Linked DNA regions of Homo sapiens: region 1 is linked to region 2. Evidence: fine-mapped expression QTL. A gene starts in region 2. The other region holds a variant in brackets. All regions are shown on one strand. Distances are between the middles of the regions.

Region 1 (15,030 bases), 630 kb after region 2:
AGGAGTTGCCAGGGAAACAACCCCTCGGAGCATTCTGCTCTGGGGTTCTTCATCGGGTGGGGAGGGGGGCTTCCCATGAAAGGCACAGGGGTTTTCTCAAGCGTGCTCACACCTGGTTCTGCTTTCTTTCCTTCTCTTGGAGGGCTTGAGGGTTCCACCTCCCAGGCCTGCCCATTAGGCTGGCAGGCACCTTACCCCACAGAGCCTGCCAGCACCAGTACATGCCAGGACCTAAGGCCAGGATCAAGTCCACAATGAGCAGGGCCCAGTGCAAAATGGAAATGCAGGGCCCCTTGATCAAACCCATTAGGTGGGTTCAGTGTACACTGCTCAGGGGATGGGCACACCAAAATCTCATAAATCACCACTAAGGAACTAATTAACCAAATACCGCCTGTTCCCCAAAAACCTATGGAAATTAATTTTTTAAAAAGCGTATAGCAACAAGACAAAAAAAAAGAATAAAGATATAAAGAAAGAAAAAAAAACCTGTTAGGAATTTCAAGATATCAACAGCAGAGCAGGAAATCAAGCCAAGGACCTTCTGAGCAAAGGGCCCTCAGGTCGCACACCCAGAAGGCCGATCCTGTTCAAGACTTCACTTTGCCTGAGCAAGGCGGGTGCAGGATAGCGGCTGAGGGACCGCCGTGGTATGCAGCCAACAGGACCCTTTCATTGAAGTACCATCCACATCCCTTACGTGAGAGGAGGGGAGAGGCACTGGGAGAAAAATTCTCTGTATTTAAGGATTTGCAGCACACACATATTTTTTTTTTTAAATCCAAAACTCAGGGCTTGAGTTAGGAAATCTAAGAAAAGAATGATTCTGGTTGTTCTGGAGTTACTCTCTTTTAATCTGCAAGGATTTGGGAGAAGTAAGAGCATTTGGGATTCATAGTAAGATCTAAGGTCACTTTGTGCCGGTACTGTGCTACGATCTGTGGCTGCTGAGATCTACCTTAGAGGGGTTATTTTTGCCATTTTACAGAGGGGAAAACTGAGGCTAAAGGAAATGCTGTAACTTGTGTCAGGTCCAGCAGCTTAGAGCCTGAGTTGGGTGCGGTGGCTCACGCCTGTAATCCCAAAATTTTGGGAGGCCGAGGCGGGCAGATCACTTGAGCCCAGGAGTTGGAGACCAGCCTGCCCAACATGGCAAAACCCCATCTCTACTAAAAAATACAAAAATTATCCAGGTGTGGTGGCATAGTCCTGTAATCCCAGCTACTTGGAAGGTTGAGGCACAAGAATCGCTTGAACCCGAGAGGCAGAGGTTGCAGTGAGCCGAGATCGTGACACTGCACTCCAGCCTGGGGGACACAGTGAGAGTCTGTCTCAGAAAAAAAAAGTAGTGGAGCTTGGATTCAAACAGATGTAGTCAGACCACAAAGCCTGCCTGCCTGACCGCTTTGCTCAGTGTACTGCCCCCAGGCTATGAGGCCAATGTCGTGGAACCTGTTCATTCTGGTATTTTTGTAGCTCTGGCTAAGTTCAGGTGGAATGTCGCTGAATATATAATACCTGGGGACCAGAGAGGAAATTTGGGTGTTTTAATGGAAGGATTTATAGTGGCCAAGCATCAGACAGGACCATGAGACCTGGGTCTGTGTATTTTAGTAATAGACTCCGCTAAGGCGCTGTTGAATCTCTGACACAAAGCTGTCAGCCAACATAGAGCTTTGGGCCATTTGCTTTCCTTGCAGTGTCTCTCCACCCACCTGGAGTTGATGCTTAACAAGAAAGAAAAATACAATTTCCTTGGGCTTCAGAGTGAAATGCACTCTGAGCCGGGGACAAAAGAGGCAACTCTGTAATAAGAGATAATAGATATTCTCCTTCCCAGTACTTAACGCAGACAAAATAATTGTAAAATTCCAGAGAGCAGATTGTGAGGATAAAAGAATGTGGCCATTCCAGAAGCAGTTTTTATTCCAGCCCAGTTTTATATGGGGTGCTAGGTCCACTAGCCAACCATTGACTAGCAGTGTCCCCAGCCTGGGAAGACAGGGTGGGTCAGATACAGGAAATGGCCATCACGTCTCTAAGGTGGGCAGAACATGAGCAGGTCAGAGAGGGTCAGGAGCCTGAGGTCCGAGGACTCTGGGGTAAGACCCTGAAAAGCATTTAACTCAGTGGCCAGAGAAAGGGGGGAGCCCAGGGAAGCTGTTCCCCGCAGAAAGACAAGAACAAGATTCCTACTTTACCCCTTCTTTCCGCAAAATAAACCGAAATTCCCAGTATGTGGAAGGTGATGCAGTAACCAGCAAATATTAATGCAAATGTGTGTGCACACAAGTTGAACCTCCTGTGATATTTCCCAGAGGGTTAAAGTAACTTTCTTTTTCATCCAATGAAAGGAACCCCGTTCCTGGAGCAATTGGATGCAGCCCTAATTACTTCCAAACATTACAGTCAGCTTCTCAGTTAACGAGCTCACTGGTCCGAAGGAGGAATGACCGCCAGGGCCCCTTCATTCCACTTCTCACCCTCCCTGGCCAAGCTTGAGGGAGAGACTCTGGCCGCAGCGTCCTTCCGGGCGACAGAACTCTTGGTTTTCTTTGTGCTGCAGCAAGAAGAATGGGCTTGACAGGCTCACACTGTGATCTTGAGTTGCCTGCCCCCGAAATAAGGTCCCAGCCTCCTCCGCCCTTTGCAAGGCTCTTACACATTAGTGAGCAGGAAGTGGAGTCCCGATGGGAGGCTGGGAATTTGAACGCCTTCCCATTTCAGCACTGGAGGGGAGGAAGCTCAGTTCAGCACTCCACGCAGATGGCTACCGCTCCCTCCTGAGCGCTCGCTCCTCTCGCTCCTCTCCCCTCACCCGCCGCCTTCCCTGCTGGGTCCCTCTCCCCGGTCTCCACCTCTCCTCCCTCTCCTGGAAGGGAAAAGTCTGCCAAGCTGGGGACTGCCACGACCAAACCAACAAAGGCCGACCGAAGGCGGAGAACTTGAAAAGAACTTGTTTTGTTCCAGTTAAGGAACCTGCAGGAAAATCCACACCCACATTGCCTGGTTTTGAACTGGAGAGCTGCGTGTGTGTGTGTATGTGTGTGTGTGTGTCAAGCAAGAGGCGGAGGAGGCACAGACTACGGTCTCTGTTTTGATAAGGAAACTGCCAGCTGTCGAAAGTTAACCAGCAGAGAGGGGAAGATGGCCCAGGAGCCAGCCCCTCCTGAGTTTTAAACTACACTGTTTTCTGTCCAGATATTCCAATGGAGACAGTTGGAAAACCTGTACTTCAGAGAAAAGAAGTTTTCCGTGGAAGTTCATGACCCACGCAGGTAAGCTTGAAAAGTCCTTTTCTTGCGGGATGGCGTGGCTCTCGGCCGGGCGTGTTATGGATATTATTTTGGGGCTGTCGTTGTTCATGGTCAGTTTGGAGCAGGGAGCGAGGGTGGGGGCTCCTGGGGAATGGAGCTCAAATCAGACAGTGAAACTTTCTTTTCAATTACATGTGTTGATAAATGCAGTGGGTTCGCACGTGTGTGTAAGTAGCAATCCCCTGACTGTCTCATCTGGCCACATGTGTCCCTGGCTCGTGTGTGTGTGTGTGTGTGTGTGTGTGTGTCAGTGTATGTGTTTGTCTTACCTGCCGGGGCACTGGAAGGAAGCTTTATAGCACTTTGTAACACACACCAGTAAGTCCCCATAGGAAACTTTTGCTATAGAAGAGTCTGAAGAATCCCTCATTAGAGCTTCTAAAAGTATTTCAGGCAGGACGGTCAATGCGAAAATGAATTTGTCACCAAAGCAGTTGTGCTACGTTGTTTTATTCCAGGAGCTGTAATTTTAGGATGTTAGTATTGTGGGTGGATGTGAAAGAAATGAAATTATTTTTCCCTCCACCCAAAATCGTACCCCAGAGAGCACCAGGGTTGTAAAAAGTCCCTGTACTCTTAAGTCAGATGCAAGACAGTGGGGCCCCAGGTTGGAATGCAGGGAGCCCCAGGTGGCTGGGGTCTGGGCAGCTCATACCCACTGTTTTCCTCTCTTTGTCTGCCGCTGGACCTAAAGTTATATGCATCCCCAAAAACAGCAGCGTAATTCCCTAAAACCAGGCCTGACAACTAAGAAATCACTTTCCATAAGGTCAGAGACATTTACAATAAGAAGGTAGCCCCAGGGAGACAGAAAAAAGATCAGACTCTACAGAGGAGCAAAAGTGGGTTTTAGGCGCTGTTGACGCTCCAGCCCTGGGCTTAGAAGGAGGACTTGGCACCAATTCCAGCTCACACATGGCTTCTGATGCTCAAAAC[A/G]AGCTGCAGTCCCTCCCCATGAGCTCTGGACAGGAGGGAGATTTGGAGTTACCCCGCCCAGTGAGAGGGCTTGGACCTGTGCAGTAGCCCCTGTTCCTGCAGCCCATGATAACCCGGTAGGAATGAAGCCGTGCTTGCCCTCCAGGGTAATCTGCCTGAAACAGCCACTCCTGTGTAGGGCAAGAGCTTATCTCAGCACCACGGTTACTACAGGAATAGTTAGTGGAGAGCAGCTGAGAGTTTCTGCATCTCCACAGTCAGGTGAAAATGGTAGCCTTTAACAGAAAAATATTTTATCCGGTGTTTCTCAGGGCCCTGCAAGGGGTTTCGCGGCCAGAAGCCCCACTCCATGGAGCACAGATCCATCTGTGCAGGCCAAGTGGGGTGGGCGGGGAGATTTCAAAAATAAGATTCCAGCCAAGAAGAAACTCACTGTTCATTTTCCAGGTGAACTGAATTGGACCAGGTTCTTAGGCATGTAAGAGAGGGGAAATTTAAGTACAGAAAGAGTGAAATGAACTTTGCCACAATGGGTCAGATGCAGAAAGGGGATGCTCCATAGGATAAAAATGAGGGGCTGGGTAATCTAAGGGGCTGAGCGCAGGGAATAGACCCTCCGCCATGCCTGTGCTCTGCTGGGAATTCAGTGAACACCCAGGCACCTTGGACAAATCCTTTAACCACGCACGCATATATCTGCACATGTGTGTTCGTGTTCTCTGTGCGTCTGTCGCCCTATTGGTGAGTACTGCTAAACTCTCTTTACCAAAGCCCAGGGATATAGGAAAGAATCTAGATCTCACACGTGACTATTCAGTGGGCCTGTCGCCTATTAGACAGCAGTGATCAATGTCATGTTTCTTGCGAAGCTTCTGTGTCCTTGTCGGGTGCTGTGGCGGGGAAGGAAGGAAGTCGGAGGCAGGGTCTTCTTCCTTAAAGATCTTCTAGTGTAACTGAGAAGACAGGCAGAAGAAGGAACTTTTATTTTGAGACACGGTCTCATTCTGTCGCCCATGCTGGAATGCAGTGGTGCAATCATAGCTCACTGCAGCCTCCACCTTCCAGGCTCAAGCAATTCTCCCACCTCAGCCTCAGCCTCCCGAGTAGCTGGGACTATAGGTACACACCACCGTACCCAGCTTTTTTTTTTTTTTGGAGAGACTGGGTCTCACAGTGTTGCCCAGGCTGGTCTCAAATTCCCAAGCTCAAGCAATCCTCCCATCTTGGCCTCTCAAAGTGCTGGGATTACAGGCGTGAGCCACTGCCTGGAACCTGGCTGAGAAGAAGGAACTCATGGAGTGTCACAAGAAACAAAGAAACCTGCTCTAGACGACAAGTAGCTAGTATACAGGAGAGGCAGGATTTGAACCTAGGAGGTCTGGCTCCAGAGCTCATGCCCTTTATCTCTATACTGTACAGAAGGGCCAGACGTCGTGGGCCATGAAGGGTGAAGGACAGGGTCACCAGAGGCCTGGCTGGTCAGGAAGGGAGAGGCTTACCAGGAAGGAGAGGTCTGAGTTGGACCTGGAGGGGTAACTAGGATTAAAGCCACGTGGTAGGGCCTCAGGGGGATATAGATGTCAGGTGGGGGCTTCTCAATTAGGATAAACAAATGAGGGAGGGTCTGGCTGGAGGGAAGTGGGAGTTGGAGGAGCCCAGAGGAAGAAGCAGAGCTGTCTCGTCCCAGGCAAACTCGCTCTGAGTACACTGAGTTAGCCTGCAGACAGGCAGGAATGGGGGAGAGGCCCAGGGAGGCCAGAGGTGGAGACCCGGGATGACTTCAGCATTAAAGACACACAAGGAAAGGAAATGGCTTCAGGTCAGTTATTTAGCATGGCAGAGCCAGAGCTATGAGCTGTAAGATCTTTCTTGCACTCAGTTCTCTTTTTCACATCCTAGTGGTGCCTTTTTTCTCTTGTATTGAGAGTTACTATTTCACGTATTCATGAGCCACGTGTGAGTGCGTTACATGCATAGAACATGGAATGATCAAGGCAGGGTACGTGGGGTATCCATGGCCTTGAGTGTTTTTTTGTTTGTTTGTTTGTTTTGTTTTTTGAGACAGAGTCTCACTTTGTCCCCAGGCTGGAATGCAGTGGCGCCATCTCGGCTCACTGCACCCTCCACCTTCCAGGTTCAAGCAATTCTCCTGCCTCAGCCTCCCAAGTAGCTGGGACTACAGGCGTGCGCCACTACACCCAGCTAATTTTTTTATTTTTAGTAGAGATGGGATTTCATCACGTTGGCCAGGATGGTCTCAATCTCTTGACCTCGTGATCCACCCGCCTCAGTGTTTACTATTTTTATGTTGGTATCATTGCAAGTCCTCTCTTCCAGTTACTTTGAAGTGAACCTCGCGGTGCTTTTTAAGTTGAATGTGTCATCCTATTGCTTGTGGCCTTGCTTATTTGAGGTAGGGAAGAGGAATGTGATTGGCCTCACGTTAGTTTGGTGTTCCGGGCTCAGCCCCTCCCCCAAGCCAGGAAGGCAGTCAGAACTGCAGTAATAGGATGGGCAACGCCAGATACGGTCATTTAATGAAGATGTAATCGATGGGAATGATTCAGGGCAGAGGCTGCTTTCTGGGCCGATGGGCTCAGGTGTGATTGCACCATTCCCTGTGGGGCACTGGACAACACTGTGCACTTTCTCCCCCTGGGCATCCTAACTCAATGCTTAGCTTCATTTCTGAGCTTCTCCAGGCTGGGCCAATATTTCACTTCTACGGTTTGGGTAAAATAGGAAGGGCTTGAAGCGAAAGATGAGGAGAGGAGATAAAGTAATGATAGAGCAGGAGAAGAACTCTGAGTATCTGATTTAGATGCTCCGGGGAACTACCCGGACCTGACCAGCCACTTACCTCTTCTGCCCTCCCGGTACCTGAGAAATGGAGGTACCTAGCCTTGCACCACCTTTCAAGATACTGTTCTTGTCTAATTCAGCTTTTCTGGGGGGAAAAAAAAGTCATTCATTTATTTCCAAGAGCAAGAACTGCTATGGAAGCCAAGCTGGGAGCACAGATCCCTGTTTTCTTTTAAATTTAGAGAGACTGGCGAGGGATCTCCCCCTCGCTCTCTCCCTGGCTCCTTTTTTCAATTATTTTCAACTGTGTGCTCTTTCACGCTCTGGCTTTTTTTTTTTTTTTTTTCCTTCACTTTTGTTGGAACCGAAGGGAGAAAAAACCTGTGTGGACTCAGTAACATTAACCACCGGATCTGAATTTCTCCTTAAAAGTGAGGGTGAACAAGACTCCACTTTAAATCTTTAGCACCCCCGACCCCCGCCCAAAGTAAGATATTGCTGGCAGCTTTGTTTTCTTTAAGGGAAAATTAGCCATGAAAAAAAATGTTATTGTTTGTAAGTCCTGATTACCCCCAGGTTTCTTCCAAATTAGATATGTTAGTCTTGAGAACATACATTTTGTTTCTGATGTCCATGTAAAATGCCCCAAATCCCAGCCCACCTTCCTGTCAACTTGTCTCACATGCATGCGCACACACACACACACACACACACACACATGCAAACACACATTCTTAGATTTCATTTGCAAAATAATCTGCCTATCCTATAAAATATACTTCACTAAGAGCATGACCATATAACTCCCCCTAACTCCATGAATGTGGAGATGAACAGTTCCCGTTTTCACTTTTAAAGTCTGATTACTCCATGTAGATTTAAAAATGTATAGACAGGGCCAGGTGCGGTGGCTCATGCCTGTAATCCGAGCACTTTGGGAGGCCGAGGCAGGTGGATCACCTGAGGCCGGGAGTTAGAGACCAGCCTGATGAAACCCTGTCTCTACTAAAAATACAAAAAAGTAGCCCGGAGTGGTGGGGGGCATCTGTCATCCCAGCTACTTAGAAGGCTGAAGCAGGAGAATTGGTTGAACCTGGGAGGTGGAGGTTGCAGTGAGCTGAGATCTTGCCAGCACGCTCCAGCCTGGGTGACAGGGCAAGACTCCATCTGAAAAATATAAATGAAATGTATCGACAGACGTTGGGGGAATTGGGGCTGGGCACATTTCTCTCTGCCTTTCTTCTCCTGATTCTTTATACCCTCCCTGCCCTCTGAATAGATTGGAAATTGATCACCAAATCTTCAAGGAACATTGGGTTAGTTATATAAGAAGTCCCAATTCCCTGGGACGCTGTAGCCTGTGGTGATTAGAAAATAATTTACTCATCCCCACCGTAGGCACATTTCCTGTCTCATAGGGAGCATCATTGAAGGTTTTCCTGTCTGCGAAGTTTGTCTTGGCCCAGTGCCAAGTCCAGGATCGAAAAAGGACCATCCATTGACCTAGAATGACCCATCTTATCCCAGACAAGGCCGAGGCTTGGCCAGATTCTGAACTCTAGGGAGTCAGAAAATCAGAAGGTGGCCTTTGCCCAGCCAATGATGTCTGTAAGCTGTGTGCGCATGTGTGTGTGTGTACGCCTAGGTGTATGTGAGAGCTCATCTATCATCTTTACGCCAGGGCTTCTAGGACGCAGTGGGTTCTCTACAGAAGCTGTTGACTGAGAAATGGTTTCTCTCAACAGAAATGGGATTGAACCTTGTGATTCTTGCTTCCCCAGGGCTTCAGTGACAAGGAGGACGTTTGGGCACAGCGGCATTGCAGTGCACACGTGGTATGCATGTCCGGCATTGATCAAGTCCATCTGGGCTATGGCCATAAGCCAACACCAGTTCTATCTGGACAGAAAGCAGAGTAAGGTGAGTGACCAGACCTCTCACCAAGCCCGGGCCATTGTCTGCCTCTCTTAGTTTAGGAATGAGGATCGGATGGGTGGGGGAGGCGCCATGTCCCTTGCCCGGGTCCATACCTTGCACAGATACAGGCTTGCCTCTTAGGGCTACAGATGGGAGGGATGAGACTAGCTCTTCAAGAGGGCACATTCCATGCATCTTGGTCCAGGGGGCTCTGACCACCATCAGAGCCGCTCAAGCCGCTGACTGCAGCCAGGTAGGCCCCTTTTGAGGAATTCCCACTGTGCTTTTGGCCCTCGGGAGAATCCTCTAGCAGCGTGAAGGCAAGCCCTTTTTGGTGTTTAAACAGTGGTATACTATCTTCCTTTTGAAAAGAAAAAAGGAATCTTTCTCAACGAATAGACACCACCTAACTGTTTAGGGTAATTGCTGTGAAAACCCTCAGGCGGTTCCAACTGCCAACTCCATTTTTTTTTTTTTAATGCAAAACTGGAAACGTTAAAAAAAAAAAAAAAAAAAAAAAAAGCAACTACCCTGTTTCCCTAAGGTAGACCTAGAGCCTGGGGCCTTGGTAAACAGACTTCCTCCAAGGAGATGTCACCACCCCTGACTCTGGGCACGCAGCTGCGTTTTCTGGTGGGTGAGAGGATGACGTCTCCTTGGTTCACACAGGGCTTATATCAACACTCTGCCCCCTCTTCCTCCAGCCCTGTCTCCCCAGACTCCCCTGTCAGCCCCCCACAAGCCACTCCCATTCATTCTCCCTCAGGGGAAGAGCCCTGCCAAGATGGCCCTGCAGCTTCTCTCAAGATCCTGCTGGCTTGGGCTGGGGGAATACAGACTGAGGTCACCCTGGGCCCCTGGGCTAGTGGTTTCTAGCACTTACGGAGGATTTCCCTCCATCGCGTGAGTTCTTGGGAGAAGGTGGCAAGATGCTCAACTTACTGGGCACAAGAGTCACTGAATCGGTGCCCTCTAGGGTTCTTTCTCTTTTGCCATCTTATCCATATTTTAAGGGGTTTCTCTTTTTCTGGGGAAGAGGAGAGTGAGCGAATTGGGGGTCAAGGGGGAGGTGATAAGAGAAAGAAAAGAGGACAGGGCTGGGCACAGTGGCTCACATCTGTAGTCTCAGCGCTTCGGGAGGCCAAGGCAGGAGGATCACTTGAGCTCAGGAATTCCAGACCAGCCTGGGCAACATAGTGAGACCCCCATCTCTACTAAAAGAAAAAAAAAAGAAGAAAAGAGGACAGGACGAAATGAAACAATCCCTTTAGTCATAATTCAGTTTTAAATTGGGGTCTGTCCCCCGCAGCCGTCATTTTATCCTTTGTAAAATATCTTGTCCTCTACTTTCTGACCCCCTTTTTGGTCATTTTCTGGGATGAATGAGCGCAGGACAGAGAATTTCTGTTGTTAGGAATAATGACAGTATTCTCCGCAGCTCTCCTGGCAGTGATGGGTCCTAGTCCTAGCGCAGGAATTTGAAGCTCGATTAGATCAAAAGAAATGGGGCCAAAGTGTTTTTGACTCATGCTCGATATTGACACAGTGGGTGGGTGTCAGGGTTTTGCTGTCCAGGGGCAACAGTTGGAGGTCGACACCTGAGAACGTTAATTTCACCCTCTGTGGTTGGGTGATGGATGGTGGGGGTTAGGGGATTGGGCAATGCTCCTGAACCCCACTGCCAGTTCCCCTTGACGGCAGACCCCCCACGCACTGTACCACAGTGTGGACAGAGGAAAAGGTGTATCTCGCCCTGAGGATAGCACAGCATTGGCTGTTCAAGCTCCTCCTCTCTGCGCCGGTTTTTGCATAGGCGGTCTCTTGAGCATTTCAAGAAACTTGTTCTTATGGCTTTCCTGCTGCACCCGGGAAGATGGGCTCATTCTGCAGTTGGCAAGCCTTGTTGTTGAACAGGCTAACAGGTCAACTCACTGACACAGCAAGTATATCTCAAAAGGAAATTATTGGCCGGCCGCCATGGCTCACGCCTGTAATCTCAGTACTTTGGGAAGCCGAGGAGAGCAGATCACTTGAGGTCAGGAGTTCGAGACCAGCCTGGCAAACATGGGGAAACCCAGTCTTTACTAAAAATACAAAAAAAAAAAAAAAAAAAAAAAACAATAACCAAGCATCGTGGCAGGCATCTGTAATCTCAGCTACTAGGGAGGCTGAGGGAGGAGAATTGCTTGAACCCAGGAGGCAGAGGTTGCAGTGAGCTGAGATCACACCACTGCACTCCAGCGTGGTTGACAGAGTGAGACTCCATCTCAGAAAAAAAAAAAAAAAAAGATTATTGTAGATAAATTAGCAACAAGACGTGTCTTTTAGGAGGTAAAACCAAATGCCCCATAGCATTAGGAATGTTTCAGCTGTCCCTTTTGTAAAAGTAACCCTTGGGGACTGAAGAAAATGCCCACGCTCCCAGAAGGAGAAGGAGAACATTTCCCAGGAAGCCTGGCATGCTCACAGATGTCCTAGAGCCCTCACACTTCTCACAGGAACCAGTTCCCCAGCCTGCAGTGACAGGTGAGGATCACAACCCTCTATGTGGGAATTGGAGGCCTCTGTTTTCCAGCTCTGGGACCCCGGGTGGGTCTTTCATCCTTGGTGTTTTGCTTTCCCCAATTAGCAGCAAAGGAAATTCCTGACCTCAATTAGTGATTGGTCAGATGGCACCACGTTTGTGAAATTGCTTGAGGAAATACGTGCCATCTTTTACTAATGTCATAGTTAATCTAGCATACTATCACTGGCCAACACTTGCATGAAGTTTAAATTCTCTAAAAGGCCCGCAAATTAAATCAGAGATGATGACGTACCCTTTGGGAATTACATTACAACACCTTTCTGTTTCTGGAATGTTCTTTATAGAACAGCGATGTGATTGATCTCTGATGGGCAGCACGGCCTCTGGGTGAGTGATGGCCGACAGGGCTGGGACAGAGAGCTTCATAACATTTCTAGGCAGCCAGTTCTGGCTGGTATCCTGGCCACTGCTCACACTCTACTGTACTGGGACATGCCAACCATTCCTTTCTCTGAAGAGCTTCAGCAAAGCCCAGGCCTCCCAAATGATGTTTATCAACCCTAGAGAGACAAGTGAGGTCTAGTGGTTCGAGTCAGCAAGGGTAGGGAGCCATGAGGGTTCAGGTGCTCCCCTGACACTCGGGTTTTTTCTTCTTTCAGGGTCACTGTGCAAATCATTTAAGGAAATCTCTCCTTCTTTCTCTCTGCCTGTCTCTCCCTCCCTCCCTCCATCAGCTCTCCATGCATATACATCAAGAAACCATTCTACGATCTAAGACAGGGCGGAGGGAGGCTGTGCTGGTTGGTTATTTGTAGCTCCTTCAGAATGAGAAGCTGCACAGGCACCAATTATAATTGGTAACTTCTATGCTGACCCCAGAGATCAGAAACGTTGTCTGCTAGATCCCAGCAGCCTCTGAAGCCCAGAGCCAAGGAACGTCTTAGAGACTTTGCAGGAAAATATTTGAAAGTTCAAAATGTTTAGAGTCGACATTAGACACTTTTCCCTCTGAACTCAGAGTGGGGACTTCTTGAATTGGCCCCCAATCCAAACGTCTTTCCTTCTTCCTAATCTTTTTTTTTCTCTCCCTGATGCAGTTCACCATTTTATTTAGAGTCAAAGGCAGAGTCAAAGGGGGACAGGGACATTGAAGCTTTGTTCCCACAATATCAGACAGAAGACTGAGTCACGTGTATCAGCCAAGACTCCCAGACCAAAATGTTCCAGAGTCTGGGGACTCCTTAAGGTCAGCCCAGAGACCTGACTTTGCAAAGAGAGACTCTCCCCGACAATGCCCATGTCCTCCCGGTCCTCTCCCCACCGAGTCTGTTAGGTCGCTGTGATATTTTCCATTCTAGAAAGAATCCGGACCGGGCGCAGTGGCTCATGCCTGTAATCCCAGCACTTTGGGAGGCTGAGTCGGGCAGATCACCTAAGATCAGGGGTTTGACACCAGCCTGGCCAACATGGCAAAACCCCGTATCTACTAAAAATAGCCAGGCGTGGTGGACCACATGTGTGGTCCCAGCTACTCAGGAGGCTGAGGGAGGAGAATCGCTTGAACCCAGGAGGCAGAGGTTGCAGTGAGCTGAGATCGTGCCACCGCACTCCCCCAGCCTAGGCAACAGTGTGAAACTCTGTCTCAAAAAAAAAAAAAAAAAAATCCAGTAGTTTGCTAAAGCTTCCATAAGGCTTCCAGGAATCTAGTCTCCTTTAGGAAGGATGCCTTTTGATCTCATATTTTTGTTTTAAGAATGATGTGTGGCAAGAGTTCTGGTATGACAAGGGGGATAAGTTTTTCATGTGATTAATGAGGTCCCCAAAATATCTGGTTGGGCCATCAATCTAACCTCAGTTAGCAAATTACAGCCAGGCCCTAATGCAGATCCTATTCTTATTACGATGGCCTTTACATAAATTATCTACTTTAGTTATCACAACTCTGGGATGTGGGTTTTAAGACCTCCATTTTACAAACATGTATCTGAGAATCAGGAAGGTGAAGGGTCAAAGTCCGATAGTGATTCACTGGGAAGAGCCAAGATTCTAATTCAGGTCTTTTTTTTTAGACAGTCTCACTCTAGCACCCAGCCTGGAATGAGATCAGGCAGTGGCGTGATCTCAGCTCACTGCAACCTCCGCCTCCCGGGTTCAAGCAATTCTCCTGCCTCAGCCTCCAGAGTAACTGGGACTACAGGCGTGTGCCATCACACAAGTCTAATTTTTGTATTTTTAGTAGAGACAGGGTTTTGCCATGTTAGCCAGGCTGTTCTCAAATACCTGGCCTCAAGTGATCCACCCACCTCGGCCTCCCAAAGTGCTGGGATGGACAGGCTTGAGCCACCATGCCCAGCTCTAATTCAGGTCATTCTGACTTCAGAGCCCAGACCCTTCACCCAGCACTGAATTGGTCTAGGCCTTCGTGAGTTATTGTTACATCACCGTTTGGGAGTGGGCTACTTTTTATTAAAACCTGGGTCTCCATAACAGAGCGATGTAGAAAGAAAGGAAGTCATGGGTTGTACTCGCCATGCTTGCTTAGAGGGTAAAACTCAACCAGATGGGCGCAAATGATAGGCTGTGTCAAAATGAAATAAAAAGCCCTTTTCCTTCCTTCTGCGGCAAGCCAAAATCCTTCGAGGGCCTGGCAGCCAGGATTGTTTTATGAACAAGGAAATTCGCCTGAGGAAGTCGACTTCAGTCTGAATGCAAGGAAAAAAGTTGAGGTTAGCAAGGAAGCATAAGTCGAGGAAAGGCCCACGGGGTAGGGAGGAGGAGGAGGAGGAAGACAATTCACACCAGGTGAAGAAAACAAGCGCCATGCCTCAGTGTTTCCTCCAGCCCGCAGACTTCCATCGTGTTAACATGAGGTCGGAAGTCGCTGTCCTTGCCAGTGTGGACAGCAACGTCGAGGGCAGAGGAAGGGCAGAGCTGCAGGCATTCAGACAGCCCTGGCTGGACAGTAAGGGCCCCCAGGCACGGAAGGTAGGCTGTACACGGGGCATCCAGGAGTGGTGGGTCCACACCCCTCCATGGCCTTCACCACCGCCCCCATGCCTGCTTTCTCCTGTGTGGGAAAGACCTTGGGTTCCACAGGCCAGGCAGGAAGCTACAATGGTGAACCTCGCCCAGTCCGTGTGTGTGCTGTAGACAGTGGCCACAGAAAGGACAGATGAGCAAGTGACCGTTTCTAGTTGTTTTCACGAAGTTCTGTGTACTGGCAAAGCCTGTTGCCTTCAGCACACTCACAAAAAGTTGATTTCCTGAAGAAGAAAACAAGCAAACATTGGACACACGTGTGGGAAATGCAAACAAACACATTGTCACTACCGAAGGTAGAAACTGGAGCAGATACCTTATAAAAACCACTGCTTTAGCCAGGCGCGGTGGCTCACGCCTGTAATCCCAGCACTTTGGGAGGCTGCAGCGGGCGGATCACCTGAGGTCAGGAGTTTGAGACCAGCCTGGCCAACATGGCAAAACCCCGTCTCTACTAAAAATATAAAAATTAGCTGGGCGTGGTGGTGGACA
Region 2 (15,030 bases):
CACATGCCTGTGATCCCAGCTACTCAGGAGGCTGAGGCAGGAGAATCGCTTGAACCCGGGAGGTGGAGGTTGCAGTAAGCCAAGATTGCGCCACTGCACTCCAGCCTGGGCGATACGGCGAGACTCCATCAAAAAAAAAAAAAAAAAAAAAAAAAAGAAAGAAAGAAAGAAAGAAAGGAAGGAAGGAAGAAAATCACTCTTACTCGCAGCGTTGTAACAACTAATTGTATTTTTTTTGCAGTTATCCTACCGTTCATGTCCCTTAAAGAGCCACTATACTGAGGTAGAGTAGGCATACAGTCATCTGCACGTATTTAAATGGGTTTTGACACATGTATATAGCCGTGAAACCATCACCATAATGAAGATAGTGAATATATCCACTGCCTCAAAGTTTCCCCTTTGTAATTTCTCCCCTCTGCCCCCTCCTACCCTGTTTCTCTTATGCTGTTCCTGCTCCCCAGGCATCTGATCTGCTTTTTGTCACTATGTATTAGTGTGAGTTATCTAGAATTTTACATAAGTGGAACCATAGATTATGAATTCTTTTTTTGTCTGACTTCTTTCACTCAGTATAATTATTTTGAGATTCATCCACATTGTTGACTGTATTAATAACTCATTCATTTTTATTAAAAACTCCAGCTTTTTAAAGGTATGATTTACACATCATAAAATTCACCTATTGCAAATGCATACCGTTCAGTTCCAGTAAATTTCCAGAGCTCTGCAACCGTCACCACAGTGCGATTTTAGAACACTTTTAAAGACCTTTTGTGGCCAGTTGCAGCCACTCCCTGCTTCCCCTTGTGGATTCAGGTAACAATCACCTATCTCCATGGGTGTGGGTTTTTTAAATATATATTTCATGTAAATTTCATAAGCGAAGTGTGGTCTTTTGCATCTAGTTTTTTCATTTACGTAATATTTTTTGAGTTCATCTGTATTGTAGCATACTAGTACTTCATTCCCTTTCATTGCTGAATAAGATTTCATTATACATATATACAATTTGTTTATATATTTACTCATTGATGGATGTTTGGGTTGTTTCCAAGTTTTCACTATGACAAATAAAGCTGACACAAATGTTCGTGTACAAGTTTCTGTGAAGTGTGTTTTAAATTTACATTTCCTTTTATTTGTTGTTGCTATATAAAAACACAATAGATTTTTGAATTGACCTTGCATCCTTCAACTTTGCCAAACTTGCTTATTAGCATTTAATAGATTCCATCGGGTTTTTTATATGAAAGATCATATTGGCTATGACTATAGACAGTTTTACTTTCTTTTTCAATCTGGATAGCTTTTATCTTCATTTCTTGGCTTACTGCAATGTCTAGAATTTCCAGTGTAATGTTGAGGAAAGGTGCTGAGAATGGTCACCCTTGCCTTGTTTCTGATTTTAGGGGAAAAACATTCAATCTTTTGCATTAATTATGCAGACAGCTATACATTTTTGTACATGCTTATCAGATTAAGGAAGTTCCCTTCTACTCCATGTTTGCTGAATTTTTTTAAAAAAGATCAGGAATAGATGTTGCATTTTATCAAATGCTTTTTATTCATCCATTCAGCTAATCACATGGTTTTTCTTTTTTAGTTAGTTAATATAGTAAATTACACTGACTGCTTTTAGAATAATAAACTAACCTTGCAATCCTGGAATATGGACTGGTTGGCCACAGTGCATTATCTTTTTAATATACTGTTGGATTCTATGTGGTGTCATTTTGTTTAAAATTTTTGCATTCTTGCTTATGAGGGACAAGGATCTGTTGCTTTCTTTTCTTTTATTGTCTTTGATTTTGATAACAGGGTAGTATTGGTGTCACAAAAATGAGTTCGTAAGTATTGACTCCTCTTCAGTGTTCCCAAAGAATGTATGTAAATTTGGTATAATCTTCCTTAAATCTTTGCTAGGATCCACCAGTAAATCTATCCGGGCCTGGGGTTTTCTTTGTGAGAATTTTTACTTCTTTTCAAATTGGTTTGCCTTTTATTTACTTTGTGGGTCTAAAATAATCTTTATTTGGCTTTCATTTTTGAAAGATAGTTTTGTAGGTATAGAAATTTATACTGATAATTTTTCTTTAAATTTTTAGAAGAACGCTGCTCTACTGGATTCTTCTTTGCATTGTTTCCAAAAAAGAAATCTACTGTTACCCTTATCTTTGTCCCTGTGTACGTGATATATGTTTTTCCTCTCTGGTTGCTTCCAAAATATTCTCTTTATCACTGATATTGAGCAATTTGATTATGAAGTGCCTTGGTGTAGTTTTCTTCATGTTTCTAATGCTTAGAATTTGTTCAGCATATAATCTGTGAACATGTTGGCTATTATTTCTTCAACTCAATTTTCTGTGTGTCTCTTTTTTCAAGGATACAAATGATATATCTATCAGGCTACTTGAAGATGTCCTATAGCTGACTGATGCTTATTTTGTTCTTCGAATTTTTAAATATTTTCCATGTTTCTAATTAACTTTTTGAATATATTGAATACAATATATTCAAAATTGTTTTAATAATTAATGTTATTTAAACAATAATAATTGTTTTAATATTTTCTGCTGACTCTAACATCTATGTTCATTCTGGATGATTTTGATTGATTTGTTTTCTATTTAGTGACCATATCTTCCTACTTTCTTCGTACATGGTAATTTTTATCAGATGACATTCTAGTTTATAAATCTACATGTAAATTATACACAATGTAAATTTACATTATAGATTTAACCTCATTGAGAGTTGGATATTTTTGTAATTTTATAAATGTTCTTTAAGTTTGTTTGGAATCCAGTTAAGTTACGTGGAAATAGTTTAATCCTTTTGGGTCTTACTTTTCAGAATGGTTAGGCAGATTCAGGACAGTGATCAATCTATGACCAATTATTTCTCACTGTTGAGGCAAGAGCCATCTGAGTGTTCTAATAATGTATTAGGAATTATGAAGTTCTCCAGTCTGGCGGATGTGAGCAGACACTGTTCTGGCCCTGGGTGAGCACTGGTCACCATTCTTTCCAATCTTTTTATGTGGTTCTTTCCCCAGCCTTGAGTGGCTTCCCCACATGTATGTGGTGATCAGCACTCAACTGAGTGCTCATGGGGACTCTTTGAAGATCTCAGAAGTTCTCTTTCTCTTTACACCTGTCTTCTCTTTGGTGCTCTGTCTTGTGAACTGTGTTCATCCCAATCTTTCCTGACTCTCAGCTCTGTCTCCATGACTCTGGAGAACACTTGATTCCACGTAGCTCCACTCTCGGTTCCGTAGCCTGGAAATACTCTTGATTCAATAACCTGGGACAATTGTAAGGCTTCTCTAATTTGTTTCTTATCTTTCATGGATCACTGGCATTTGTTGTCTTATGTCCATTAACTTGAAAAGTATTGTTCCGTATATTTTACATTTTTTGTTTGTTTCATGTGAAGTGTAGACTTGCTCCCTCTAATTCCATCTTGGATAGAAGCAGGAGTTCTTCACATATTCTTAAAATACAAATATTTACATGGTTGCAATTAGAGAATATGTCTCATATTACTTGCAAATAAACATATCTCAGACATTTGCAATACTTCTAAATAGTTTCATAATTGCCATTTTAATAGCTGCAAAATATTTCACAGTGTGCCAAATCTACTTGAGCACAGTGTATACATTAATGAGTGATTTATGTCCCATCTCTTACTAAAAATGAATTTCAGATGGCTTACTGACAAAAAGGCCTACTCAATAAGAGTAATAGAGTATGCATTAGAAGGAAAAATAAGATTGAAAGAAAAGAAGGAAGTAATAATGCCAGTTATGATAGTATCTGCTGTCATTGAAAGTAAAATTAGATTTTGGGCATTCTGGAAGTCCAGTGTGCCAAGTGTGATTAGGTACACTATTCTCATTATCAGAATTAAAAGGGGACCAAAAGAGAACTCACAGTTATTGAATGTCTACTATGTGCAACTTAAGAAAATCTCTAATAAATAATACTTTCTTTGAGTCTCACCTCACCCTTGTAATTCTTGCTCGGGATCCTAGAGAAAATGACAGAATAAGCCTTCAGATTCCTGAGAGTAAAATGGCCTGGCAGGTGTTCTGGGGCCAAAGCCACCCACACCACAGGCTCTTTCAGGATAATGACATTTTCCTTTGTACTAGATTCTGAGAGGAATTTCTCACCTGGGGCAACTTATATAGATGGCAGTGGGTGGTCTCATGGCCAATGTCTGAACAACAGCTTCACGCTAAATACAGAAGAGTATTTGTTTGTTTGTTTTGAGATACAGTCTCACTCTGTGTCCCAGGCTGGAGTGCATTGGTGCAAACTTGGCTCACTGCAACCTCCACCTCCCACCTTCCTCCAAAGGATTCTCCTGCCTCAGCTTCCCAAGTAGGTGGGACTCCAGGCACGTGCTACCATGCCCAGCTAATTTTTGTATTTTTGGTAGGGAAGGGGTTTCGCCATGTTGGCTAGGCTGGTTTCAAACTCCTGACCTCAGGTGATCCACCCACCTCAGCCGCCCAAAGTGCTGGGATCACAGGCATGAGCCACTGCACCTGGCCCAGAAGAGGTTTATGAAGAGCTGTTTTTTGCGATGGGTGTGACATTGAACTATGCTTCATTTGAGGAGTTTTTAAAGGAGGATACATTGAAATGGATTTCATATATATATAGCTTTCTTGGGAGGTAAGATTAACCAAGAATCGAGTTTAGTGACTCAGAGGATGGGATTGCTGTCCCCACACCTTCTTCCTTCTGTGACCTTGAACTAGTTCTTGAAAGGACCTGGATAGCTCATATTCCACTGCTTTTTGATGAGGGCCTATTTAATATGAATTAACTTCTCTTCCTCACAAGCTGCTCGATAACCCCTTGCAGTTCGATTTCTGTGTCCGAAACTGTACTGAAACACCCTTCCACCCCACCCAGGCATCTTTGTGGAATGACCATTGCCACTCGAATTTGGGAGCTCTCTTCTCCTTTTCCTCCTTTGACAACTCCTTCTCCATCAGCCTGTGACCTGTCCTCACAAACTCCCCATGTCCTATCCACTCCCTGAGGTCTTGCCATTGCCTCTTCCTCTTTGCGCTTTACATTTTGATATCTCCATTGGTGCCTGATTTAATCTTATTGAGCATGGGCTGCTGTTTGAGCTCGATGCTTGGAGCTGTAGAAGTAAACAGAGAAGAGCAATGCTCAGTTCCGAAATTAGTTTGTTCCTCTCTAGTAGGGGGATACTAGAGAAAAGCAAATCACTGCCAATTTTTTTAAAGAAGGAATTTAAAAGTTGTACAAACAAAGCAACTATGAATGCCCAAATAGAGGAATTGGGAAGAATTTCATGAAGTATGCAACTTTTGACACTGAATGTTGTGTGAACGTATATGCTGTTACCAGACTCAGTGTATGTGTTTCCCAGATTTACTTGGCTCCTCCTGTCTTCCCTGGGCAAATTGAGCCACTTGCTCATTGGGAATCCCAGGTGCTGCCATTGTCATTTCAATTCCTGGCACTGCTAGCTGTCCTAGCCTCCCAGGACAGAACAGGGAGGGTTTCCATCCCACACACTGAGGCAGGAGCCTCACCACCCCAGGGCCCAGGTCCTGTCTGACTGACTCACAGAGGCTATGGTTTCTTCCTTATCTTCTGGGCTCAGATGCAATGCCTTTCATGCCTACCTGCGGGAGTTGGTAACATAACCCTGAAGCGCAAGAGGGTTAATGTCTGATGGAATCAATTTGACCAAAAAGAGTCAACTAATGGACAGCACTAGGCTGTTAGCTCCCTCTCCCTTCGTCTCCTTGATGGGTTATGCCAAAAACTGGAAGTTCCATACCTGTCTGGAAGCTCTTCCTCAGGACTGAGTAGCTGTCCTATGCCCACTTTGGTCAACCCCACCTTGTACCTGCTCTCATTCCATCCCTGCCTCACCTTCCCCACACCCCCACTCTTGCCACCCTGAAATTGCACCTCCCAATGATGTCTTCTTGCAGAAGATTTGCTGCAGGCTATTTTCCAGAAAATCTGGGCTGCAATTCAAGCAGACAGGGGATGAGGCTTTCCAGGCAAAGGAGCCATGAGTGAAGTGCTGAGAGAGGAAGGCGGGTGTTCTGGGGGCCAACGTCAAGGGCTGACACAAAATCTCTCAGGCCGGCCTCTGCAACCTAAGGATGTCCCAGACTGTCCCATACCTGAGGCTGCTCCTGCCTGTCTCTCCTCAGGGTTTGTCTTTTCTCTGCCCATATCCACCAGTTGCAATAGCTCCAATATTAACGTTTTTTCTTAGCTTTGGTTATTTTCCAAACACATAGTCCATGTAGAATCAGAAAGCAAATGTCCTGAAAAAGATGTTCTGCTGTTCCTGAAGTTCCAGTGCAAAAGCTACAAAAAAAAGAAATGGTAAGCCCTCCCTACTCTGTGCTATCCAAACTATTTGGGATTTTTTTTTTTGCATTTCTTACATATTATCTTGTATCATTAATGATTCTACCAGATAAAAAGTTCCTTGAGGGCAGAGGTACAAAGTCGGCATTCTGCAAATATCAGTTGAATACATTTAGAAATCCATCTGAAAAGTTAGGATAAGGTCCCTTAAATCACTATTATAGACCTGTTCCTTAAATCATTGTTATTATTTTTCAAATGTGACTATACATATTATTTTGAATAGTATTGCAATCCACCAGCACAGTCAGAATGTCCTGACAGTTCTGTGCAAGGCCACATGCATGCGACTCAAGTCATGCTTTGAATCTCCAGGCACCTGCTGGCAAGGAGGGTTGCTCTGGTGTTCCGGGGATCAGTAACATGAGACTCCATCCACACACTGTGGAATCAAGGTTCAAGCTCATTGGGCCACTATAGGAAAAACAAAATGGGAGAAAATTTTTCACTCACTTATTTTATTTTGTTTTATTCTTTTCTTTTCTTTTTTTTTTTATTTTGAGACAGAGCCTTGCTCTGTTGCCCAGGCTGGAGTGCAGTGGTGCGATCTCACCACAGTGCAACCTCTACCTCCCAGGTTCAAACGATTCTCCTGTCTCAGTATCCCAAGTATCTAGGAACACGGGTGCCCACCGCACCCGGCTAATTTTTGTGTTTTTCATAGAACAGGGTTTTGCCATGTTGACCAGGCTGGTCTTGAACTCTTGACCAGGCTGGTCTTGAACTCTTGACCATAGGTGATCTGCCCACGTCAGCCTCCCAAAGTACTGGGGCTACAGGCGTGAGCCATTGCACCCAGCCTTCACTCATTTATTGAATATATTTTAGTACTTACTCTGTGCTAAGCACTGTGATGAGCAAATACTTTTTATTTTTAAATTTTTTTAGAGACAGAGTCTTGCTCTGTCCCCCAGGCTGGATTGCAGGAGTGCAGTCATAGCTCCCTTCAGCCTTAAACTCCTGGACTGAACTGATCCTCCCACCTCAGCCTCCCAAGTAGCTGAGACTCTAGGCACACACTACCATGCTTGGCTAATTCTTTTATTTCTATTTTTCTTTTTTTTTTTTTTTTTTGTAGAGATGAAGTCTTGCTATGTTGCCTAGGCTCACCCTGAATTTTGGGTCTCAAGCTATCTTCCTGCCTCAACCCCCAGAAGTGCTGGGAATGCAGGTGTGAGCTCCCATACCTGGCCCAAATCAATAGTTTTAAAAGTATAAGTAATAAAGGAACAGTAGCTATGCTCGTGCACAGGAACATGAAAGGTCATTAATTTCTTCCCCCTAGTTTCTTATTTCGAAAACTGTTCTCTATGTTTCTACATTTCACACTGTCTAGTTAATTTTCAGGATTTTTTGGAGCCATTACAGGAGGTGAGTAAAGGAAGAAATCAGAAAAGGACATACTAGAAGTATCAGGAATAACCATTTTTAGTTGAATACATGGACTCCAGAAGAAGATACAAGCTTGACAGTGCTCATGAAAAGATATCTAATTTTCTTAAGTCTTTGACTCTGGAAAGCCCTTTGAGCTACCCATTATATAACAAGATTCGGCAGGTTTTTTCTTTCTCCCTTCATTGACATCTTCCGGGGAAAATGCTGCATGATATGATTTTCAAGGCTAACTTGCCTTTTCCTGTTAAGCAGTGTCCCTTGTGACAAATTCACCTCCTATGCCTCCCTGAACTAGGGAGGCTCCTTCAAAATTCCTAACAGGCAGCCCTGTGGAGAGATGGGAGGGAAGGGATGGGAGGGAGGAAGGGCGGGAGGAAGGGAGGGAGAGAGAGGTAGAGTGTGTCTGTATGCGGCGTACATGTGGTACAGCCAGGGAGATCAGAACGCTCACAGAACAGGCAGTGCAATTCCATGTTCCTCTTAAGTATGTTAGCCCTACCGGGAGCTGAGCTGGCCAGTCTACTTGGAGAGGAAAAGTAGATCTGGGGAAGGTGGAAGGGTCAGTTCCTAAGTGACTTCCTCCTCGGGGATGGTAAGGGCATTTGCTGATCTCCAGTGACTGCCTGGTGCCTCATGGTCAGACTCGGCTGTCTCACTCCCAGATATCTGATTTTGCAAAAAGGGACACACCTATCTGCAGCAAAGAAGACACTGACCAGATTGCGAGCGGTATGTTGTGACATTCAGCATGTTTATGCAGCAGAATTGCTGAGAGATGCAGAGAGAGGGGGTGGCTCGGGCTGCTTGATTTATCTGCAATAGGGAATGTTTTATTTTAATTGTCAGTTAAAGGAAGAATTGCTGCCAGGGCGAAGGTAGCAGTTAAACATTCCGTGTTCTAAGCTTTCACGTTTGTGTTTGATGCGGTCTCCCTGTCTGTGCCGCTTTGCGAAGCTAGGGAGGGCTCACTTTTAAATAACCTGCAGCTTCCTATTTTCCTTCTTCTTTTTTTTTTTTTCCTCCCTAAGCACAGTTCCCACCCTGTCTTCCCTGACCTCCTCCCCACCCTGTGTGAAAGGTGGCCTATCTTCCCCTTGAGCCTTTTGCTCCCTAAGTCTGGATTTTGGCTGCTTTTTCTGCAGGTGCTTTTGGATGCTCTGTAGCCACCCGGGGCCCAGGAGGACTGACTCGGCAGCAGGATTCGTGCATGGGAATCGGAGACCATGGCAGTGCAGCTGGTGCCCGACTCAGCTCTCGGCCTGCTGATGGTGAGTGTTCAGACAGGAGGTGGGGCCCGGGCAGCGTCCACTCCAGCCTCCCCTGCACCGTGGGCTGCTGCTGCCGCTGCAGTGGCTGCAGACATGTTCAACATTGCTCCGCTTTATCCCGCAGGCTCTTTGGAAATGCTTTCTTGGGTCAGAGTATCAGCATGACAAAGCACTTGCAGGGAAAAGAAGCTGTAGATTTGCCATTTCAGAAACTTGTTGCTGAATGCTATTTTGAGAGCTGTGCTTGCAAACAGGTGCTAAGAGCCCCTCGAAATAGATTGCTAGGATGCCTCCTCCAGCTCCCAGCATCCTTTCCCCCTTGTCTTTTGCATCTAAATTGAGCTGATTGTGTTTGTTTTTGGATATCTTCTCAGGGCAACTGTGGAATCTGTTGCCCATGGGGTGACAGAATGGGGTCTTCTTTCTAGGCGCCCATATATCTGCTCATACTTTCCTGTAGAGGTGGTGGAGGAGGTTCACTGTGGCTTCAGTGATGCTTGGGCTACTGAGTTGGGAGCAGCTTGTTTCCTATCTACCATTGATGGCCAACCTTGGCAGGACTTGTCCAGGCATTTATCTGTGTGTGAGCAGCTGACTCACCTTATGCCCCTCTGGAATTTTCACCATATTAAGAAAGCCCTAGCTCTTACCATATTAAAGCACACAAGGACATGGGCACTGTCTTGTTCCAACCCAATTGGCTTTTGGCTTGACACTAGGTTCAGCAGTGGCTTTTGCCATGGTTTTGCATCTCTCTCCTTTCCCAGGGTTCCCACACACCACGGTAATACTGGCTGTTGTCGGAAGTAGCCTGCATCAGGCTTGGCATGGAAATGTTTCCAGCATTTACACAGGAGATTTTATGAACCAAGCATAAGTGCTTCTGTGTATATTGATTTGTGTCTTCGGAATGAGGAGGGGAAATGCAACTTTGCAAGGCCTGATGAGTTTATGGAGGTGACTTGGAAGAGCCGTCAGTGGGAAGCCTGCCCCCTGGGTGGCAAGCCAGGTCATGTTAAAAGGAACAGATATCTTGGTTCTTCGTTGCTCAAAATTCCACTGGGTCCACAGATTTAGTTGAATTGCCTGAAATCTATCTCATGGGCCTCTGCTGACTTCTCATTTCACTGGGGGAGTAGGACTAGAAGAAATGAAATTGTCAGTTTCCAGAGAAATTACCCATTACCTGACTTCTTTCCCTTACTAATTCTATCGTCTGATGATACTTTATCCTCCATCGTCTACCTGTGGTCAAATAAACTGGATAGGAATTTTCATTCCATCACTGAGTATTCGTGATGATGGCTGGCACTAAAATGCATTATCTATGGGGTCTAGGAGACTTCTGGGAACCTGGGAGCCTGGGTTATATGCTCTGAAATACAGGCACACATATGCACACACACACACACACACACACACACACACACATGCATATGTATATTATATTATCTAGTACACTAACAGAAATAAATCCTGCATCGTGTTAATATAGAGGAGAAAAGTTTTCTTGAAAAATATCTTTAGGGAGAGTTAGACCCGCTTGTCTCAGCCTCCTACTTGGACCTTTCTTCTATACTTAGAAGAAAGATGTGTATCTGCTTTATTCCAAGCCCCTAAGCATGAATCCTTGGTATCCAAATTAAATGAATAGCATCCATTTCTGCTGTTATACACCCCCCCCCCCCACCCACACACACACACAGGCTCTTCTGGTCCTGGGTCTTCCACATATTATGGCTGCTGTCCTGGTAGTGTCTACATCTCAGACTTCACCTTCCATTTGTCAGTGGCCTCTGCCCTTAGATCTGTCCCTGGCACTCTCCTCCTGCCCGGAAAAAAGGATCGTGTTCTCCTCTCTTGGAAACCAGGGGAAAGAGCTCTTGACACCCTGATGGACCGTTTGATTAAAGAACCCTGGAGTACCATGTGTAATCAAAGTCTGTATACATTTTCTGGTTCATGTTTAGTTCAGGGAAATTTTCCCCTATGGACTTTGGTGCTATTTTTTTTCCTTTTTAAGGGTAAACCCCAAAGTAATTGCTTCCCTGACATCTTGCATGATGCATCTTAAAATTTATAAGCAAGCCGAGGAGGAAAGAAAGGAGGAAAAGAGGCCATTTAGCGGAGTTGCTTTGGCTGTGAGTTCAGGAAGGAAGCTGTAAACATTATTATTTATGAGCTCATTCATCAGCCAATCAGTTGTCAGTATTTATCGCGTGTCTGCTCACTGAGGAAAGTAGCCTGGCATAACAGCAAGAGCCAGAGCTCATAAACACACAGTCTGTGGGAGGCTGATACCAGGTTGGTGGATTGCAGTTCTGATTTTGTGCTATGGAGTCATCGGGGCTAAGGGGTAGGTGGGGAGATGATCTGGCCACACCCCTTGCTTTTGGATAAGGAGACACCCAGAGGTTACATTCAGCTTAGATGCTAAATGCTTCAGGGCAGAGCATGTTTAATTGGTTACAGAAGCGGCCACAGAGTCTGGAGGGTTGGACAGCCCTGTGCTCCATTCTAGCCTTGCCACTCATTGAGTGATCCTGGGAATGTCCCTTCCTTTCTCTGCCTTGGTGATGCCATTTGCTAACTGAGAGTGCTCTCTGATGTCTAGGTTCCCTTCCATTCTGTTAAACACAATTTAAGATCTCTAAGAAACAGTGTACAGATGAAGTTCCAGGATAGCCAATTCGAGGGCTTTATTTAGCGTTATGTCTCTATTTCCAACCTTGCACATGAGCAGTATTGCTATGAAAATGGTGGAGTGTGTTCCCACTCTGGCTTTTATGCTAGGGCAGATATGTTTCATATTATTAGCTGACACGGATGATCATTAGTGTTCATTCATACTCTGCCATCAGGAGTCTACCCCACAGGAACCTAAGTTGGTCCATTGGACAAAAGCCAATGACTTTTGAACAGTGTCTCAGAGGCCTTTTCAAGCTAGGGCTGGGTTGCGGTCAGCTGGGAGGGGTCCCAGGTGGTAAGCATGCCTGGACCATCTTGAGGTGGGAGGACCTCACTGATTCTTTCAACGGACAGCTCACAGAGGGCAGTGATGCCTCTCCACACAGGACAGAGCCACTCATATGACCACGGAAGGGGGGACTTGGAGAGAAGACACATTCTGGTGGTGGAGATGGCCTTTTAGGCTGTTGAAAAGCTGCCTCTCCCATCTTTGCAAGAATCTCAGGCAGCGAAAGAAGATACTGCTGTGTTCACCAACCCGTGAGGAGGCTTCAGATTGATGTGACTAATTGTAGAGCGGGAAGCTCTTGGCTACGTGTCATTTGTTGAGGGCGTGTGAGTTCAGGGAAAGCTGCAAGGGCTGGAACATGCTAGAGCCGAGGATTAGTTTATCTTTAGAGCCAGGATAAGGATGAATAACCAAGGGGCTTCAAGGGTGTTATGATGCCATTTCGGTTCTTAGATTATAAAGGCTCACCTTCAGGACAGCTAGATTAAAATAGTTTTTAATGGAAATTAACTGGATAATAAATAATGCAAATTAAGCTTTTCTATAAATGAAGTGTCTTTAAATACATTATCTCATTTAATTCCATCCATGACCCTATTTTTAAGACCAAAAAAAATCTGATAATTAGAATTTGGGAAACTGTCAATGGTCACATAAGTGAAACTGATGAAGCAAGTTCTCAAAATCTCGGTCCTCTGAGTCCCAAGCCAGTGCTTTCTCTGACAGCATATCAAAGCTCAACAATTTGACTTCTAGGACCTTCTAACACTTTGGATTCGCTCCTGAAGTTAGCTCCCCTCTGAACCAGTCAGCATTTTCTGTGTTTCCAGGTGAGGAATCCTGTCTTTCTGTTAATCATCTGTTCTTTTCCATATTGAAGTGTAAAATAAAAAAGGGATACCACAAGTCTGGCTCAAGATGTCTGGCTTGACTCTAGCAAGAAAAAATATTTTTTTATATCGATGAAATAGCTGCCATTTTTTCAAGGTTCTATTCTCTCAGACTCTGTTTCTAGGAAATTACTGAGAGTCATATTTTATAACATAAAAAATTAAATGTATAAAAACTCAATTCACAAGTCAGAGAAGTTAGTGGGTGATTAACCACAATGAATGAAGAATGTCAATTGGATTATCCTGAAGTTTCTTTCCATTCTAAATATTTGATTTCAGATTTCTGGGCTTCTTTTGAATAGACCAGCTCCCTTGTCTATGTTTAATAGATTTCAATGGGTAACCTGCTGTTCTATGAGTTTATCTCCCTCATTTCATTTCTTTATAAATTCTTTTCTAAGCCATTTTCCTCCTTTGGACAATTTCCTTTTTAACTAACCAACAAATATTTGCTGAGTATCTACTTTGTGCAAGAAGAGTACAAGGCAGTGACTGGCTTTAGCATACTTACAGTCTAATTGTCAAGACAGGTTGGAGATACGCAGGAACTGTAACAATGAGAAATTTACAGGACGTCTTCAGAGAATCACATAAGAACTATAACAAAACAGTGCCTAACTCATCACCAAGTGAGCCCTAGGGGGCGCTGGTTGTCAGAGTGGATGAACTTGTTCTTGAAGTTCAAGCAAGATGTTGAGTGATGGATGAGTTAAGAGAGCAGATTTGAGGTGAGGGGAGTGGTTGAATACAACAAAGTCTGGATCTTGTTTGGGAGACGGGGAGTAGACTGGTTTGGGCAGATTTCCTGTAGGTGACAAAGGGTTGCAAGATCAGAAAGGCCAGTTGGAGATGTGATCAAGGTCCTAGTTCTATTACTATAATCTAATCCTTCTCTACATTTGACCTGTGAGAGGTCTAATCTGATAGATTCAGATTAGATCCTGAAAAGAGATTCAGAATTTGTAATAAGCCTATGGCTTTTCCGCAGATCCCAACTGTCAAAAAGCATAGAATAAAATTGAGTTTTGTCTTAAGGACTCTTGCTCTTACATTAATAATCTCTATGTTTTTCAAAGTGCGTTTGCAGATGTTGTCCCACCGGATGTCCTCAACACTCCAGGCAGGTTAGGCAGGACATCTTCCTATTATATGGTGAAGTTGGGGTCCAGAGAAGTCAAAGGGCTTGCCCAAGATGACTCAGATAATTTGCGATAAAATTTAGATACAGGCCAGGTGCGGTGGCTCATGCCTGTAATCCCAGCACTTTGGGAAGCTGAGGCAGGCAGATCACCTGAGGTCAGGTGTTTGAGACTAGCTTGGCCAACATGGTGAAACCCCATCTCTACTAAAAATACAAAAATTAGCAAGGCGTGGTGGGGTGCACCTGTAGTCCCACCTGCTTGGGAGGCTGAGGCAGGAGAATCACTTGAACCAAGGAGGCAGAGGTTGCCGTGAGCCGAGATCGGCGCACGCCACTGCACTCCAGCTTGGGTGACAGAGCGGGACTCCATCTCTAAATAAATAAATAAATAAATAGCATTAAGATAGTACTCAAGTTTTCATGATGGTTCATGCATATGTTTGAAAAAAAGTGATATTGACAACTTTTATGGAAATTTGGAGAATAATAATTACATAGTAATACAGTGAAGCCACCTAAACCACTGTATACAGAATGGGGCCATCCAGGCATGGGGCCCAGGGGAGAGGTCCTAGATATTTGGGTCTAAGGGCGAAACTAATATTTAGTATCATCTATCTTTCTGGTTTATTCATAAGTAAGATAATTGTCAAAAAGTCCCTGAGAAATGGTCATGTCATTGTTACCTCCAAGTCAGTGGCAAAAACCCTTCTTAAGCTTAAATTATTGCACCCAAGGTAAAATTTCCCAATGGGTATCTTTGAGATCTTGCTATTAATATTTTTAGTTACTATTTAGTGTACAAATTTATCTGTTTCAAATGGTGAAATTTGAAATCCATAACTGTAAAACTAACTCAGATGATTTTTTGCTAAATATATTTTTATTTCATTTTCTGCTGGACCTGTTT

Evidence for each region.
Region 1: its variant is fine-mapped to the expression of FRMD4A in whole blood (TOPMed, PIP above 0.99).

Annotation. Positions count from the first base shown.
Region 1 is chr10:13,695,285-13,710,314 of GRCh38, reverse strand. FRMD4A (FERM domain containing 4A) reads left to right here. Exons shown (of 25, transcript NM_018027.5): 13 at 3,202-3,278; 14 at 8,837-8,975. LOC124902379 (a long non-coding RNA gene) reads right to left here and starts at 2,749. Exons shown (of 2, transcript XR_007062061.1): 1 at 2,663-2,749; 2 at 1,905-2,560. RefSeq lists enhancers at 2,410-2,469, 2,540-2,589, 2,620-2,669, 2,078-2,813 and a silencer at 9,522-9,571. The variant A/G (reference allele first, on the strand shown) is at 4,254.
Region 2 is chr10:14,324,137-14,339,166 of GRCh38, reverse strand. It overlaps FRMD4A (FERM domain containing 4A), which reads left to right and starts at 8,243. Exons shown (of 25, transcript NM_018027.5): 1 at 8,243-8,570; 2 at 8,984-9,109. The coding sequence starts at 9,065.